Linked DNA regions of Homo sapiens. The protein of the gene in region 1 binds, or shares a complex with, the protein of each later gene. Each region holds a gene or a part of one and is shown in the gene's direction. Other genes may lie near its edges.

The links.
Region 2: the proteins of NRROS (region 1) and TGFB1 are in contact, whole or in part, in a cryo-EM structure (PDB 7Y1R), measured with the Homo sapiens proteins. Residues at the interface, in NP_940967.1 of Homo sapiens: Phe194 (codon at 4,444), Glu195 (codon at 4,447), Ile196 (codon at 4,450), Glu197 (codon at 4,453), Gly198 (codon at 4,456), Gly199 (codon at 4,459), Phe201 (codon at 4,465), Leu210 (codon at 4,492), Leu212 (codon at 4,498), Pro218 (codon at 4,516), Cys219 (codon at 4,519), Ile220 (codon at 4,522), Val221 (codon at 4,525), Asp222 (codon at 4,528), Phe223 (codon at 4,531), Gly224 (codon at 4,534), Leu225 (codon at 4,537); in NP_000651.3 of Homo sapiens: Leu30 (codon at 6,155), Ser31 (codon at 6,158), Thr32 (codon at 6,161), Cys33 (codon at 6,164), Thr35 (codon at 6,170).

Annotation. Positions count from the first base shown.
Region 1 is NC_000003.12:196,655,780-196,663,107, forward strand, and holds the end of NRROS (transforming growth factor beta activator LRRC33 precursor), read left to right. Parts: intron 1-3,972; coding exon 3,973-5,943; 3' UTR 5,944-6,225; downstream 6,226-7,328. UniProt on the Homo sapiens protein: Key regulator of transforming growth factor beta-1 (TGFB1) specifically required for microglia function in the nervous system.
Region 2 is NC_000019.10:41,350,460-41,359,111, reverse strand, and holds the start of TGFB1 (transforming growth factor beta-1 proprotein preproprotein), read left to right. Parts: upstream 1-5,189; 5' UTR 5,190-6,067; coding exon 6,068-6,422; intron 6,423-8,652. Other genes in the region: B9D2 (B9 domain-containing protein 2), read left to right, coding at 1,090-1,215, 4,099-4,412. UniProt on the Homo sapiens protein: Transforming growth factor beta-1 proprotein: Precursor of the Latency-associated peptide (LAP) and Transforming growth factor beta-1 (TGF-beta-1) chains, which constitute the regulatory and active subunit of TGF-beta-1, respectively.

The DNA of each region.
Region 1 (7,328 bases):
TTCAGCCTAGATGTGAAAATAGACTTGGGTCCAAACTGAGAAATTTCCAGTAATTTTCCCCTTCATCTATATAACAATGATATCAAAAGTCTGCTCAAGAAACACATATTTAGGCCAGGTGCATGGCTCACGCCTGTCATCCCAGCACTTTGGGAGGCCGAGGCGGGCAGATCACAAGGTCAAGAGGTCGAGACCAGCCTGGCCAACATAGTAAAAACCCGTCTCTACTAAAAATACAAAAATTACCCAGGCATGGTGGCACATGCTTGTAGTCCCAGCTACTCGGGAGGCTGAGGAAGATTGCTTGAACCTGGGAGGCAGAGGTTGCAGTGAGCTGACATCGTGCCACTGCACTCCAGCCTGGGTGACAGAGTGATACTCCATCTCAAAAAAGAAAAAAAAAATGAAACACATATTTAATAAACATTTCTTGAGCCATATTATATACTAGGCGTTGGGAAGACAAATTGGATGTCAGGGCTAACACTTACATTCAAGTATGTATTCTTAAAGCATAGCTGTCATGGTTTTTAACCTCTTTTAGTAGGAACCTATAACCACTGTGCTAGAGTCTATTCCAATATGACATAGAGGTTACAAGCTAGACTGGCCTGGTTTAAACCCAGCCCCACCCTTAGCTGGTGACATTGGGGTCACTCTAGGTCATAGTTTCTCCATCTGTAGAATATATACGTAATAATAATATCTACCAATAACATCATGCTGTGTTGACTGATGATTAAATGGGTTAATACATGTAAAGCACTCAGGACAGTGCCTGGTAGGTAGTCAGTGCTACGCGTTTTATCCGTTATCACTCATATTATTATTAATCTCTGCTATGTTTGACCTCCAGCATTCTCTTACAGAGGCAATAAAGGATTAACTACACAGTAGTTATTCAGGGGTTACCAGGCACAGGAAGAGGAGAGATAAATGAACAGCCTTTCAGAGTTCAGGCAAGGCCCTCTGCTTGACACTTTCTGGCCCAGTGGGCAGGAGTAGAGAATTGGCTGCCAGGAAGCCCAAAGAGTGGGTTTCCTGTGGCTCTTCCGAGTTGAGGACTGAGAATTGGAGAGTCTGGGTGCCCTCCACTGGCCCTCATCACATTATCCATTTGACCTTATTAGAAAGTGGACGTTGGCCAGGTGCGGTGGCTCCCGCCTGTAATCTCAGCACTTTGGGAGGCCGAAGCAGGCAGATCACCTGAGGTCAGGAGTTTGAGACCAGCCTGACCAACATGGTGAAAGCCCGTCTCTACTAAAAATACAAAAATTAGCCAGGCATGGTGACGGGCACCTGTGATCTCAGCTACTCAGGAGGCTGAGGCAGGCGAATCGCTTGAACCAGGGAGGCCGAGGTTGCAGTGAGCTGAGATCGCGCCACTGCACTCCAGCCTGGGCGACAGAGCAAGACTCCGTATCAAAAAAAAAAAAAAGAAAAAGAAAGTGGACATGGTAAGCTTTTCTGGGATGGCCATATGGTCCTTCTACATCACTTCAGCGGGGCCACAGGGAATTGCAGAGGTGTGACCCACGACTGCAGCAGCTGTGGTGGAACAGCACCCCATAGCGTGAAGAAAGCCCCTGACCACAACATTCTCCAGTGAGTCCACACGCAGGGAGGAGCGCAACACCCACTCACATAAAGACACACACCTGGCCGGGCGCGGTGGCTCACACCTGTAATCCCAGCACTTGGGGAGGCCAAGGCAGGTGGATCACCCGAGGTCAGGGTGGCCAACATGGCAAAACTCTGCCTCTACTAAAAATACAAAATTAGCCCGGTGTGGTGGTGTGAGTCTGTAATCCCAGCTACGTGGGAGGCTAAGGCAGCAGAATCGCTTGAACCCGGCAGGCAGAGGTTGCAGCAAGCAGAGATGGCGCCATTGCACTCCAGCCTGGACGACAAGAGTGAGACTCTGTCTCAAAAAAAAAAAAAAAAGATAAAAATTCTCTTCCAGAGTACTTTGTAATTATAATGCAATCCCAATCAAAATACCAAAGAGGGAAGGGGGATGTGGAAAGAACTTGGCAAATCCTTTCTAACGTTCGTCTGGAAATTAGAGAAACCCAAATGCTCAACAATAGGAGATGATTAATTAGATCATCCTAATAATTATAGCTCACATTTATTAAGCACAGTAAATGTGTTTCACCTCAACAGTCACACTTGATCCTGAAAAAAAACGCTATGCGAAAATGACGAGTATAATTTCGGTTTTACAGGCAGGGTAATGGAGGTCTCTTTCGGTTCCGTAACCATCCAAAGGTCACCCATTTGATCAAAAGCAGAGCCACGAAGCATTGGCCCTGGAACTCTTGCTCTCAGCCACTGTGCTATTCATGAGATGAATGCATATGCTTCCTAAAAAGATTATGATCACATTTATTTGTACTGCCAAGGCAATAAGTCCGTCATACTTTATTGACAGGGGGAGAAAAATAGGTTACTGAACAGTTTGCACAGTATGGTCTTATTTTTGTTTTTTAGACAAAGGTAGGTAATATCTTACGAAAGATCCAGAAAGACATGGAACAGAAGGTGACTGGTGTTTCTCTGAGAGAGAGGCGGAGGTGACAGAAGAGTTGAGGTTTCCATATGTCAATACAGTATCAATGTTTAATTATTGGAAGGTTTTATTTTAATTATCAGATAAAGAACCCGAGGGGCCAAGAAATTCCACTGCTAGTGGTGGTAGAGCCGAGATTCAGATTGAGTCTGTCCTCCAAACCTGTGCTTCTTCTAACCTCTCTCTCGGGATTTTCCTCTTCTGTTGCCGTGCTGCACTTGCCCTCTGGGATTGAACCCACAATTGTAGGCAACCACTGCCCTTGTATTACTGATAAACTTGTGCAAACGAATGCCATTGCTCCTCTATCTTATCACTTAAAACTTCTTTCTGGCCGGGCACGGTGGCTCACGCCTGTAATCCCAGCACTTTTGGGAGGCCGAGGCAGGCAGATCACCTGAAGTCAGGAGTTCGAGACCAGCCTGGTCAACATGGTGAAACCCCGTCTCTACTAAAAATACAAAAAAAGTTAGCTGGGCGTGGTGGCATGTGCCTGTAATCCCAGCTACTCGGGAGGCTGAAACAGGAGAATTGCTCGAACCCAGGAGGCAGAGATTGCAGTGAGCTGAGATCACACCATTGCACTCCAGCCTGGGTGACAGGGTAAGACTTCATCTCAAAAAAACAAAAAACAAAAAAACCATTTTTGTCCTAGACACCTAAATAACATCCTATGGCTGATGGTTGTTTTTGCCAATTTTGCAAAGCGTGGGGTGAATTAAAGTATCCTGCACGTGTGCTTTCTGCAGTGCGACCAGGGTGGCCTCGTCCCTCCCGCCTCCTTATTCTGCATGATCAGAGTAGAGCCCTGTTTAGGAAAAGCACTGAACTGGGCATTCAGAGCCCTGGGCTCCAGTCCCGGCACAGCCACTGGCTCTTCACTTCTCCCCTCCAGACCCACTTTACTTCCCTGTACAATTCAGGATGGTGAAAGCTCTCAAGTCCTTTTTTTTTTTTTTTTTTTTTTGAGATGGAGTCTTGCTCTGTCGCCCAGGCTGGAGTGCAGTGGTGCAGTGGTGCAGTCTCGGCTCACTGCAATCTCTGCCTCCTGGGTTCAAGCAATTCTCTGCCTCAGCCTCCGGAGTAGCTGGGATTACAGGTGTCCACCACCACACCCGGCTAGTTTTTTGTATTTCCTGTAGAGACAGGACCTCACCATGTTGGCCAGGCTGGTTTTGAACTCCTGACCTCAAGTGATCCACCTGCCTCGGCCTCCCAAAGTGCTGGGATTACAGGCATGAACCACCGTGCCCGGCCTTGTCTATCCTATTTTTAAAATGAACATCTCTAGAGCCATCCCCGGCGGTTGCAGGGACAGTCTGATAAGTGAACTAAGTTTCTATGCATAAATGCTTGCCTCTGGGCCTCCTCGCTGCTGACCGGTGTGGTTTTGGCCGCAGGTGGGTGGAGCCGCTGACTGCCGAGGGCAGAGCCTCGCTTCGGTGCCCAGCAGCCTCCCGCCCCACGCCCGGATGCTCACCCTGGATGCCAACCCTCTCAAGACCCTGTGGAATCACTCCCTCCAGCCTTACCCTCTCCTGGAGAGCCTCAGCCTGCACAGCTGCCACCTGGAGCGCATCAGCCGCGGCGCCTTCCAGGAGCAAGGTCACCTGCGCAGCCTGGTCCTGGGGGACAACTGCCTCTCAGAGAACTACGAAGAGACGGCAGCCGCCCTCCACGCCCTGCCGGGCCTGCGGAGGCTGGACTTGTCAGGAAACGCCCTGACGGAGGACATGGCAGCCCTCATGCTCCAGAACCTCTCCTCGCTGCGGTCCGTGTCCCTGGCGGGGAACACCATCATGCGGCTGGACGACTCCGTCTTCGAGGGCCTGGAGCGTCTCCGGGAGCTGGATCTGCAGAGGAACTACATCTTCGAGATCGAGGGCGGCGCTTTCGACGGCCTGGCTGAGCTGAGGCACCTCAACCTGGCCTTCAACAACCTCCCCTGCATCGTGGACTTCGGGCTCACGCGGCTGCGGGTCCTCAACGTCAGCTACAACGTCCTGGAGTGGTTCCTCGCGACCGGGGGAGAGGCTGCCTTCGAGCTGGAGACGCTGGACCTGTCTCACAACCAGCTGCTGTTCTTCCCGCTGCTGCCCCAGTACAGCAAGTTGCGGACCCTCCTGCTGCGCGACAACAACATGGGCTTCTACCGGGACCTGTACAACACCTCGTCGCCGAGGGAGATGGTGGCCCAGTTCCTCCTCGTGGACGGCAACGTGACCAACATCACCACCGTCAGCCTCTGGGAAGAATTCTCCTCCAGCGACCTCGCAGATCTCCGCTTCCTGGACATGAGCCAGAACCAGTTCCAGTACCTGCCAGACGGCTTCCTGAGGAAAATGCCTTCCCTCTCCCACCTGAACCTCCACCAGAATTGCCTGATGACGCTTCACATTCGGGAGCACGAGCCCCCCGGAGCGCTCACCGAGCTGGACCTGAGCCACAACCAGCTGTCGGAGCTGCACCTGGCTCCGGGGCTGGCCAGCTGCCTGGGCAGCCTGCGCTTGTTCAACCTGAGCTCCAACCAGCTCCTGGGCGTCCCCCCTGGCCTCTTCGCCAATGCTAGGAACATCACTACACTTGACATGAGCCACAATCAGATCTCACTTTGTCCCCTGCCAGCTGCCTCGGACCGGGTGGGCCCCCCTAGCTGTGTGGATTTCAGGAATATGGCATCTTTAAGGAGCCTGTCTCTGGAGGGCTGTGGCCTGGGGGCATTGCCAGACTGCCCATTCCAAGGGACCTCCCTGACCTACTTAGACCTCTCAAGCAACTGGGGGGTTCTGAATGGGAGCCTCGCCCCACTCCAGGATGTTGCCCCCATGTTACAGGTCCTGTCTCTCAGGAACATGGGCCTCCACTCCAGCTTTATGGCGTTGGACTTCTCTGGGTTTGGGAATCTCAGGGACTTAGATCTGTCGGGGAATTGCTTGACCACCTTCCCAAGGTTTGGGGGCAGCCTGGCCCTGGAGACCCTGGATCTCCGTAGAAACTCGCTCACAGCCCTTCCCCAGAAGGCTGTGTCTGAGCAGCTCTCGAGAGGTCTGCGGACCATCTACCTCAGTCAGAATCCATATGACTGCTGTGGGGTGGATGGCTGGGGGGCCCTGCAGCATGGGCAGACGGTGGCCGACTGGGCCATGGTCACCTGCAACCTCTCCTCCAAGATCATCCGCGTGACGGAGCTGCCCGGAGGTGTGCCTCGGGACTGCAAGTGGGAGCGGCTGGACCTGGGCCTGCTCTACCTCGTGCTCATCCTCCCCAGCTGCCTCACCCTGCTGGTGGCCTGCACTGTCATCGTCCTCACTTTTAAGAAGCCTCTGCTTCAGGTCATCAAGAGCCGCTGCCACTGGTCCTCCGTTTACTGACCTGGCTGTGTGCCAAGACTCGAAATTCGGTCCGCACACAACAGGACACTTTCTCTGCCAGCTTTCAAGATGTGATGCAGAGGCCAAGTCTGACGAATTGAAGTTTCAATTAAAATTTAATATGTTTCCATTCCTCATCGCCCACCCCACCCCCGCCCCCACCACCGCCCAAGTTCTTTTTCCATCATTATAATTCATCCTCATTATCTTGGTAAAATATTTATTAAGTGACTTTTTCAGAAATAAAAGGCAACGTGTCTCATAAATATTTTTTAAATTAAATGCAGCTTGTGTTTTTTTTTATTGTTCCTTGGTTTCCCTTGGATTATTTTGTAGTGTCCTCCCCTTGGTGACATCCATGGAGCCGAGGGTAGCAATTCAATGCAACCTACTGGAAAAAGAACTCCAAGAGCAGGTGCTAGAGATGGTGAGTCAGTGCCCTGGGGACTCAACAGGGACAAGGATTTCATAGCAGGACGACGACACAAGGATTTCATAGCAGGACGACGACAACAAAGCATTTCAAAGCACAGCTGGAGGGTCTGACATAAGATCATAAGATGAGGCCTCTCACCTGCTGCGTGACTGGCCACCGCCGTCAGAACGGTCCTGTGATCCTAGCACTTTGGGAGGCTGAGGCGGGTCACCTGAGGTCAGGAGTTCGAGACCAGCTTGGCGAACATGGTGAAACCCCGTCTCTACTAAAAATACAGAAATTAGCCGGGTGTGGTGGCGGGCGCCTGTAATCCCAGCTACTTGGGAGGCTGAGACAGGAGAATTGCTTGAACCCAGGAGGCGGAGGTTGCAGTGAACCGAGATCACACCACTGCACCCCAGCCTGGGCGATGGAGCAAGACCCCGTCTCAAAAAATAAACAAATAAATAAAATAATGGACCTCTAGCTGGGCCCTCTCCAGGTGCCCTGGCTTCATACCCGGAGTCTCTGGCAGACAGACATGACTCTTCCATGGAGAAACCAAGAGAATAATAACTGGCCCCGAGTTTATCCAGTCAGTAAGCCGACTGCCAGAGACAGTCCTCGTTCTGAAGGGAAGTAAAGAGGAATGCAGAAAGGAATGAATTCTGCTCACTTGTGAACCCTCCTAACTCTTCACAAAAAATTGCTTACAACTTCATAGCAGATGTTCAGTATCTGTATTCACTAGATTCTTAGCTTCCCTTCTCCCTCTGTTCAATGACTAACGAACAATGTCTGTGCTCCTCTCTGAGAGAAAAGATAACAAGGACACAGCCCCCGTCCTCTGGTAGTTTAGAATTTACACTGTCCTCAAAGTTTTTAATCCCTGCTTACTAAATCATAAAGGAATTAAACGCAATGGGGGAGGGATGGGGAGGGAGAGAGGCTAGAAATCCCACAAACTGAT
Region 2 (8,652 bases), on another chromosome or scaffold:
ACACCAGCTGGAGTGCAGTGGTGCAATCTCGGCTCACTGCAGCTTTTCCAGCGATTCTCGTGCCTCAGCCTCCCGAGTACCTGGGATTACAGGCACCTGCCACCACTCCAGACTAATTTTTGTATTTTTAGTAGAGACGAGGTTTTGCCATGTTGGCCAGGCTGGTCTTGAACTCCTGACCTTAGATGATCCACCCCCCCCTAAGCCTCCTAAAGTGCTGGGATTAGAGGTGTGAGCCACTGCGCTCAGCCTTAATTTTTATATTATTTGTAGAGATGGGGTTTTGCCATGTTGGTCAGGCTGGTCTTGAACTCCTGGACTCAAGGGATCTACCTGCCTTGGCCTCCCAAAGTGCTGAGATTACAGGTGTGAGCCACTGTATCCTACCACTCAGTGCATTTTAGCTATCATTATCACCCCTCAGTAGGATCGAAATTGTTATGTGTGTTTCAGGATGCGCTCCTGGAGGGTACCCTTGGCCCCATCTTAATCCTTGGACTAGGCTTGAAAATATGGGGTGAGAATCGTAATAAAATGATATTGAAGACTTATCCCGTGCTCACTATGCTCATTACCCATTCATGGATTAATGGGTTAATGGATTAGTGGGTTATCATGGGAGAGGAAGTGGTGGCTTTATAAAATGAGAGAGAGAGACGTGAGTGGCATGTTAGCACACTAGCCTTGGGACTCTCTGAAGAGTTCCAGCAAGAAGGCTCTTACTAGATGGGGCTCCTCCACCTTGGTCAGTCTCCTATAACTGTGAGATAGAAATTCCTTTTCTTTATAAATTATCCAGTTTTGGATATTATGTTAAGAGTAACAGAAAACAAATGAAGACAATGAGGAATGCATTATTACTCAGCTCATTTTATAGATGGGGAGACCAAGGCAGAGAAAGCTAACTTGCCCAAGGTTGCAGAGGCAGGAAGAGGTAGTGCCAGGATTTGAACCCAGATACTTGGTTCCAGAGTCCATGCTTCGTAACCCCTACCAGTAGATGCCACAGAGAAACAGTCCTATAGCCACAGCGGCATCCCCTTCCCGATGGCTGCCTCCCACCCCTCTATGTCCCGGCTCTCACTGCAGGGGCGGCATGGAAGCTCCTGTCAGGCGTGCGGGAGGGCCAAACGCAAGTGGACACCCCGCAGATAGGGGACATGGCTTACTGGTCCCACCCCATCGACCTGCACTTCGCCACCAAAGGTCTTCAAGGTGGGTATCACACCTGGACCCGGGTCCAGGCTGAGGGGAGGGGGCCAGTAGCCTCTGAGGTCCCTGGGGCTGGGAACACCAAGACCTGTCCCTGCTCCCCATACCACGTAGGTCCCTTTTGCAGCCAAGTCTGGCCCTGGAGAGGCTGAGCTAAGGCCTTCCCAGGCCTGCTCAATAGGCGATCCCAAGTTTGTATGATTAGGGCAGAGGCCAGGGTGGAGCAGGAGGTGGGAAGGTGGGGGGTCAGGGTGGGAGGGGAGGTGGCATTCAAGTAAAGAGACAAAACGAGAGTCTCCAATAAAGAGGAAGCCGGGAGGCAGGGTCTGAGAGAGGCAAGGGCTGTTTCTCCAGGAAGGGCTCCTCGGCTTGAAAGTAGAGCTGCTGCTCAAAGGGGAAATCAGTACTGGGGGAGGAGCGGCATCAGAAAGCCTTTCTAGTAGAAAATGTGGGTTCCTGGAGATGAGTTGATTCTGAGAAATTGCCTAGGTAAATGTGCCATATATTTCACCAATATAAAGAACGTCTACCTGGTACCTGCCCTGTGTCCAGCCTGTGTTGGGTGATGCCAGGGAGACATTGAGGATCAAGGCAGTGTCCCTTAGCCTTGTCCTCACAGGGTTCACCGTCCTATGGGGGGACACACCTCTCTCCAGACAGTGGCACCTCAGAGTGGGCAGGACTAAGATAGGTGATTTGGAGAGGCTGTGGGAGCCCAGAGGAAGTGGCTGACTCTGTCAGGGAGGTCAGAGAGGGCTTCCTGGAGGAGGGGGCTTCTGAACTTTGCTGTGAAGGGCCAGCGGAGCTAATAAGGCAGAGGGATAGAAGAAGGTTCTAGGCAGAGGGAGCTACGTGGAAGACTCAAAGGGGAAAGTGAGCCAAGGGCATCTAGTGGATTGAGGGAGAGCGGGACGGCAGAGGGGAAAGGCAGAAGGGGACAGGCCATGCAGGGCCTTGAGTGCCAGGCTGAGGAGCTGAGGCCATCTCCTGAAGGCACTTGGGAGCCAGAGCAGGTAATGGACAAGTGAGATTTCACCTTTTTTTTTTTGGAGACAGAGTTTCACTCTGTTGCCCAGGCTGGAGTGTAGTGGCAAGATCTCAGCTCACTGCAACCTCTGCCTCCCAGGTTCAAGCAATTCTCCTGCCTCAGCCTCACGAGTAGCTGGGACTACAGCCACGTGCCACCACATCTGGCTAATTTTTGCCTTTTTTTTTTTTAATAGAGATGGCGTTTCACCAAGGTGGTCAGGCTGGTCTCGAACTCCTGACCTCAGGTGATCCACCTGCCTCGGCCTCCCAAAGTGCTGGGATTACAGGCATGAGCCACCGCGCCTGGCTGAGATTTCACTTTTAAATAATCTTTCTGTCTTTTAAGCTGGAGCTGGGGAAAAAAAAAATCTTTCCGGTGCTGTGTGGGTGAGGTGGGCAGCTCTAACCTTTCAGCTCTTGGGGCCTCCAGTCCCCCAGTGGTGGCACCAGCCTTGCTTTCTCTTTTCTCAAGCCCCCATTTTGTCCATCAGGAAATCTTAAACTGCCTCTACTTTTGAAATACATCCTAAATCCCACTTCTTACCCTTTTCTCGCCCAGCACCTTGATCTGTCCAAGTTCTTCTCTCACATGGACTATGACAAGAATCTTGTCTCTGGAGTCCCCTTCCCCAACCCCCCTGGTCTGCACCCCACATGCAGCTGGGACCCTGTGAACACCTAAGTCAGGTCCCATCTCTGCTCTGCTCAGAACCCTCCAATGGTCCCCATCTCACTCAGGGTGAAAGCCATAGTCTTAGCATGCATCACAAGGCTCTCCACAACCAGGCTGGCACCTCCTTCCCGTCTCCCCACCTCATTCTGCTCTAGCCATGCTGTCCCCACCAGGCACACTCCGTCTGGGCTCCAGCCATACTGTCCCCACCAGACAGTCCCCCCCCAGGGCCTTGGCACTTGCTGTTCCCTCTGGCTAGGAGCACTCTTCCTCTAGATGGCCACATGGCCTACTCCCTTCCTTCCTTTTAGCATTTGCTCAAATGTCACCTTCTTAATGAAGCTTCCTTGATCCCCTTCTTGCTAAAGCGGTATCCCCACCCTCACCCTACCCAGCTCTGTTTTCCCTCACAGCAATTACCACCATCTGATCTACCCTATAATTTGCTTATTTACTACATTCGTTGTCTAGGATATCAGCTTCACGGGGGCAGGAATTTTTGTCTGCCATCCATGTTCATGTCTGCCGTGTCCCCAGCTAGCTAGAACAGAGTCTAGCACAGGAGAAGGGATCAGCATGAGATGAGATGGGGCTGGATCTCCAAGGGCTTTGACTACCAGACTGAGGAGCTGAACTGTGTTCTGAGGACATGGGCAAAGCTATGGAAGGAGAGAAAGATGCTTCCAGATGCCAGGTGGAAGGTGGATTAGAGAGGGGCAAGAAAGAAGGCCCTGGGCCCAAAGAGAGCAGGGCAGGGACATGAGGGAAGGCAGGAGGTGTCCCTGACAAGGCCCATGATGGTTACCTGGGGACTGGAGGAGCAATGGGCTGCCCTGACATGGGGTCATGGAGGAGGATAACACAGAGAGGAAATTCAGCAGAGGTCTGATTAGAAGGGCCTTGAATGTTGAAGAGGTTGGACTTTATACTGAGGGCACTGGGGAGCTATGGAAGGATCCTTAGCAGGGGAGTAACATGGATTTGGAAAGATCACTTTGGCTGCTGTGTGGGGATAGATAAGACGGTGGGAGCCTAGAAAGGAGGCTGGGTTGGAAACTCTGGGACAGAAACCCAGAGAGGAAAAGACTGGGCCTGGGGTCTCCAGTGAGTATCAGGGAGTGGGGAATCAGCAGGAGTCTGGTCCCCACCCATCCCTCCTTTCCCCTCTCTCTCCTTTCCTGCAGGCTGGCCCCGGCTCCATTTCCAGGTGTGGTCCCAGGACAGCTTTGGCCGCTGCCAGCTTGCAGGCTATGGATTTTGCCATGTGCCCAGTAGCCCGGGCACCCACCAGCTGGCCTGCCCCACGTGGCGGCCCCTGGGCAGTTGGCGAGAACAGTTGGCACGGGCTTTCGTGGGTGGTGGGCCGCAGCTGCTGCATGGGGACACCATCTACAGTGGGGCCGACCGCTATCGCCTGCACACAGCTGCTGGTGGCACCGTGCACCTGGAGATCGGCCTGCTGCTCCGCAACTTCGACCGCTACGGCGTGGAGTGCTGAGGGACTCTGCCTCCAACGTCACCACCATCCACACCCCGGACACCCAGTGATGGGGGAGGATGGCACAGTGGTCAAGAGCACAGACTCTAGAGACTGTCAGAGCTGACCCCAGCTAAGGCATGGCACCGCTTCTGTCCTTTCTAGGACCTCGGGGTCCCTCTGGGCCCAGTTTCCCTATCTGTAAATTGGGGACAGTAAATGTATGGGGTCGCAGGGTGTTGAGTGACAGGAGGCTGCTTAGCCACATGGGAGGTGCTCAGTAAAGGAGAGCAATTCTTACAGGTGTCTGCCTCCTGACCCTTCCATCCTTCAGGTGTCCTGTTGCCCCCTCCTCCCACTGACACCCTCCGGAGGCCCCCATGTTGACAGACCCTCTTCTCCTACCTTGTTTCCCAGCCTGACTCTCCTTCCGTTCTGGGTCCCCCTCCTCTGGTCGGCTCCCCTGTGTCTCATCCCCCGGATTAAGCCTTCTCCGCCTGGTCCTCTTTCTCTGGTGACCCACACCGCCCGCAAAGCCACAGCGCATCTGGATCACCCGCTTTGGTGGCGCTTGGCCGCCAGGAGGCAGCACCCTGTTTGCGGGGCGGAGCCGGGGTGCCCGCCCCCTTTCCCCCAGGGCTGAAGGGACCCCCCTCGGAGCCCGCCCACGCGAGATGAGGACGGTGGCCCAGCCCCCCCATGCCCTCCCCCTGGGGGCCGCCCCCGCTCCCGCCCCGTGCGCTTCCTGGGTGGGGCCGGGGGCGGCTTCAAAACCCCCTGCCGACCCAGCCGGTCCCCGCCGCCGCCGCCCTTCGCGCCCTGGGCCATCTCCCTCCCACCTCCCTCCGCGGAGCAGCCAGACAGCGAGGGCCCCGGCCGGGGGCAGGGGGGACGCCCCGTCCGGGGCACCCCCCCGGCTCTGAGCCGCCCGCGGGGCCGGCCTCGGCCCGGAGCGGAGGAAGGAGTCGCCGAGGAGCAGCCTGAGGCCCCAGAGTCTGAGACGAGCCGCCGCCGCCCCCGCCACTGCGGGGAGGAGGGGGAGGAGGAGCGGGAGGAGGGACGAGCTGGTCGGGAGAAGAGGAAAAAAACTTTTGAGACTTTTCCGTTGCCGCTGGGAGCCGGAGGCGCGGGGACCTCTTGGCGCGACGCTGCCCCGCGAGGAGGCAGGACTTGGGGACCCCAGACCGCCTCCCTTTGCCGCCGGGGACGCTTGCTCCCTCCCTGCCCCCTACACGGCGTCCCTCAGGCGCCCCCATTCCGGACCAGCCCTCGGGAGTCGCCGACCCGGCCTCCCGCAAAGACTTTTCCCCAGACCTCGGGCGCACCCCCTGCACGCCGCCTTCATCCCCGGCCTGTCTCCTGAGCCCCCGCGCATCCTAGACCCTTTCTCCTCCAGGAGACGGATCTCTCTCCGACCTGCCACAGATCCCCTATTCAAGACCACCCACCTTCTGGTACCAGATCGCGCCCATCTAGGTTATTTCCGTGGGATACTGAGACACCCCCGGTCCAAGCCTCCCCTCCACCACTGCGCCCTTCTCCCTGAGGACCTCAGCTTTCCCTCGAGGCCCTCCTACCTTTTGCCGGGAGACCCCCAGCCCCTGCAGGGGCGGGGCCTCCCCACCACACCAGCCCTGTTCGCGCTCTCGGCAGTGCCGGGGGGCGCCGCCTCCCCCATGCCGCCCTCCGGGCTGCGGCTGCTGCCGCTGCTGCTACCGCTGCTGTGGCTACTGGTGCTGACGCCTGGCCGGCCGGCCGCGGGACTATCCACCTGCAAGACTATCGACATGGAGCTGGTGAAGCGGAAGCGCATCGAGGCCATCCGCGGCCAGATCCTGTCCAAGCTGCGGCTCGCCAGCCCCCCGAGCCAGGGGGAGGTGCCGCCCGGCCCGCTGCCCGAGGCCGTGCTCGCCCTGTACAACAGCACCCGCGACCGGGTGGCCGGGGAGAGTGCAGAACCGGAGCCCGAGCCTGAGGCCGACTACTACGCCAAGGAGGTCACCCGCGTGCTAATGGTGGAAACCCACAACGGTGAGCTCGGAGGGGCAGGGGAGCCGGGAGGGGGGCCCCCAGGGGGCGCCGGAGTGCCGGGGCCACGGGTAGGAAGTGACTGGCAGAAGAAACTGGCTGGAGGAAGAGGACACCCCGGGGCAAAGGGAACGTGTGATGGTGGGAGGGGGGTGTCCGAAAGAGGATGGCACTGAGCCCCCTACCACCCAGGTGTCTGGTCTTGGAGAGGAGGAGATAGCGAAGTGGACCGCTTCTAGAGTGCGACAGAAACATGCGGGGTCGTGGGGGCAGTCCCCTAGAGGGAGACAAGCAATAGGGGGAGGGTAGAAGGCTCCCTCTTCCAGGACGCGTTGAATGGGGGGGGGGGTCGTGGGGTGCCAGGTGCAGAGAAGGGAGCCTGGTGTGGGAGAAGCGAAGACCCCAGCATTTGGGAAAGGAGAGGCGCTGGAGAAAGTTGACCCAGAGCTTGGGGGTCCTGAGGTGGAAAGATTCAAGAAGGACAGAAAAGCTAGATGAAGGCAACCCCAGAGGGTGCCAGGAAAGTGAGAGCGGACCCACTTCCAGAGGCTGCCAGGAACACGCGGGATGCGGGGGTGGGGGAGAGTCGTAGAAAGAGAAACAGAGGTGCGTGTGATAAATGTGGGGAGAAAGGGACGGGAGGTTATTGGAAGGAGGAGGCAAGCGGGAGAGGAGCGGAGACTCGGGAGGGCGCCCGGGATGCAGAGGTGTCCTCGGTGTTTCACACAGGGACGTGAGGGACAGAGTGGGGAGCCCAGCGGAGGAATCGAGCTTCCAGAAGACCTAGAGTCCTGGGTCATGGGAAGGGCTTTACCGAGAGGGGAGACAGGCGTGGGAAAGGTGGTGTGAGCGGGGAGGAGGAGAGATACCCAGCGCCATCCACGCTGCATTCCCCGCAGGATGCAGGGGAATGGGCTGAGCGGAGTCCAGCCGCAGGGGAAGTGCTGGGTGGGGGGTGACTCTACAAGACCGAGGTGAGAAAACCAAGCTGGGAGGAGTGAGAAAGCCCCACGTGGGTGCCACGCGCGGGGGGAGGAGCCTGCGCTTCCACCAAGGGGCAGGAGGACCCCGCTGCGCTAAACGCTGGCAGTCTGGACCCCAAAGTCCCAGTTCCTCTCAGGGTGGCTGGGGAAACCCCAGCGTCCGGCGGCCTCATCCCCCTCCCTTCCCTTTCCTTCCCATGCCCCCGGCGGAGGCGGGGATCGCTCGCGGAGCCCGGGGCGAGACGGGGCAGGTCTGGTCCCCGCCCTCCTGGCTGCGGCGCCTCCCGCCCTCCTCACCCCAGCTACGGGCGGGGCTCCCACTCAGCCGGCCCCGTCGGCATCCATGCGAGGACCCAGGCGTCCCGCGTGGTTCAGAGCCTTGGGGAAGATCCCTCAGGTTTCACTGACTCTTGGGCGGTGTGGGCTTGCGGGTTCCCTGCCCATTTCTGCGCCAGTTTACAGCTCCAGCCCAATGACGCGCACTCCGCACCCAAGTCTCAGCCTTACCTTATCTTCCGTGGCTTCACCTTCGTTGTAGAGGTTCCTTTAACACTGACACCTCCAATCCTCTTCTCCCCAACAAATGCACATGTGTCTCGTCTCGCACGTGTCTCCCCATCTGCCTCTTTCTTTTCGTCTCCGTTAGTCTTTCTGTCCACGCATGGGTCTCCTGGTTTTTGTCTCTCCGACTATTTTCTCTCCCTTTCTATTTTTCTCCTCCACGGTCCTGTTGCCTCGTCTCCGTCTCTGACATCTCCCCGCCTCTCCCTCTCTGCATCACCCTCCAACCCTTCCTCTCCCTCCTCTCTGTCTTCCTCCCTATCTGTCTTCCCCAGCCAAGGCTCTGCCTTTCCTTTGGGGTTTGCTGAGTAACCTCCGGGCCAAGAATAGGGCTTACTGGGGCTGGGTGGGGAGGGAGACTGGGGAGGAGGAGGAGGATCGAAGGGGGCCGTAGGGGAGGGGTTTCCTCTGCCTTTCTCACCAGTCTCTTTTCACACCCCCACTATGGGAGGCTGGAAGCAGTTGCCCCAGTTGATCCAGCAGTTCATGGCCTGTTCCCTCATCCCCATCCCCAAACTTTTCCTAAACTAGAAAATACCTTGGCTGGGCGCGGTGGCTCACGCCTGTAATCCCAGCACTTTGGGAGGCCAAGGTGGGTGGACCACCTGAGGTCAGGAGTTGGAGACCAGCCTGGCCAACATGGTGAAACCCGGTCTCTACTAAAAATACAAAAATTAGCTGGGCGGGGT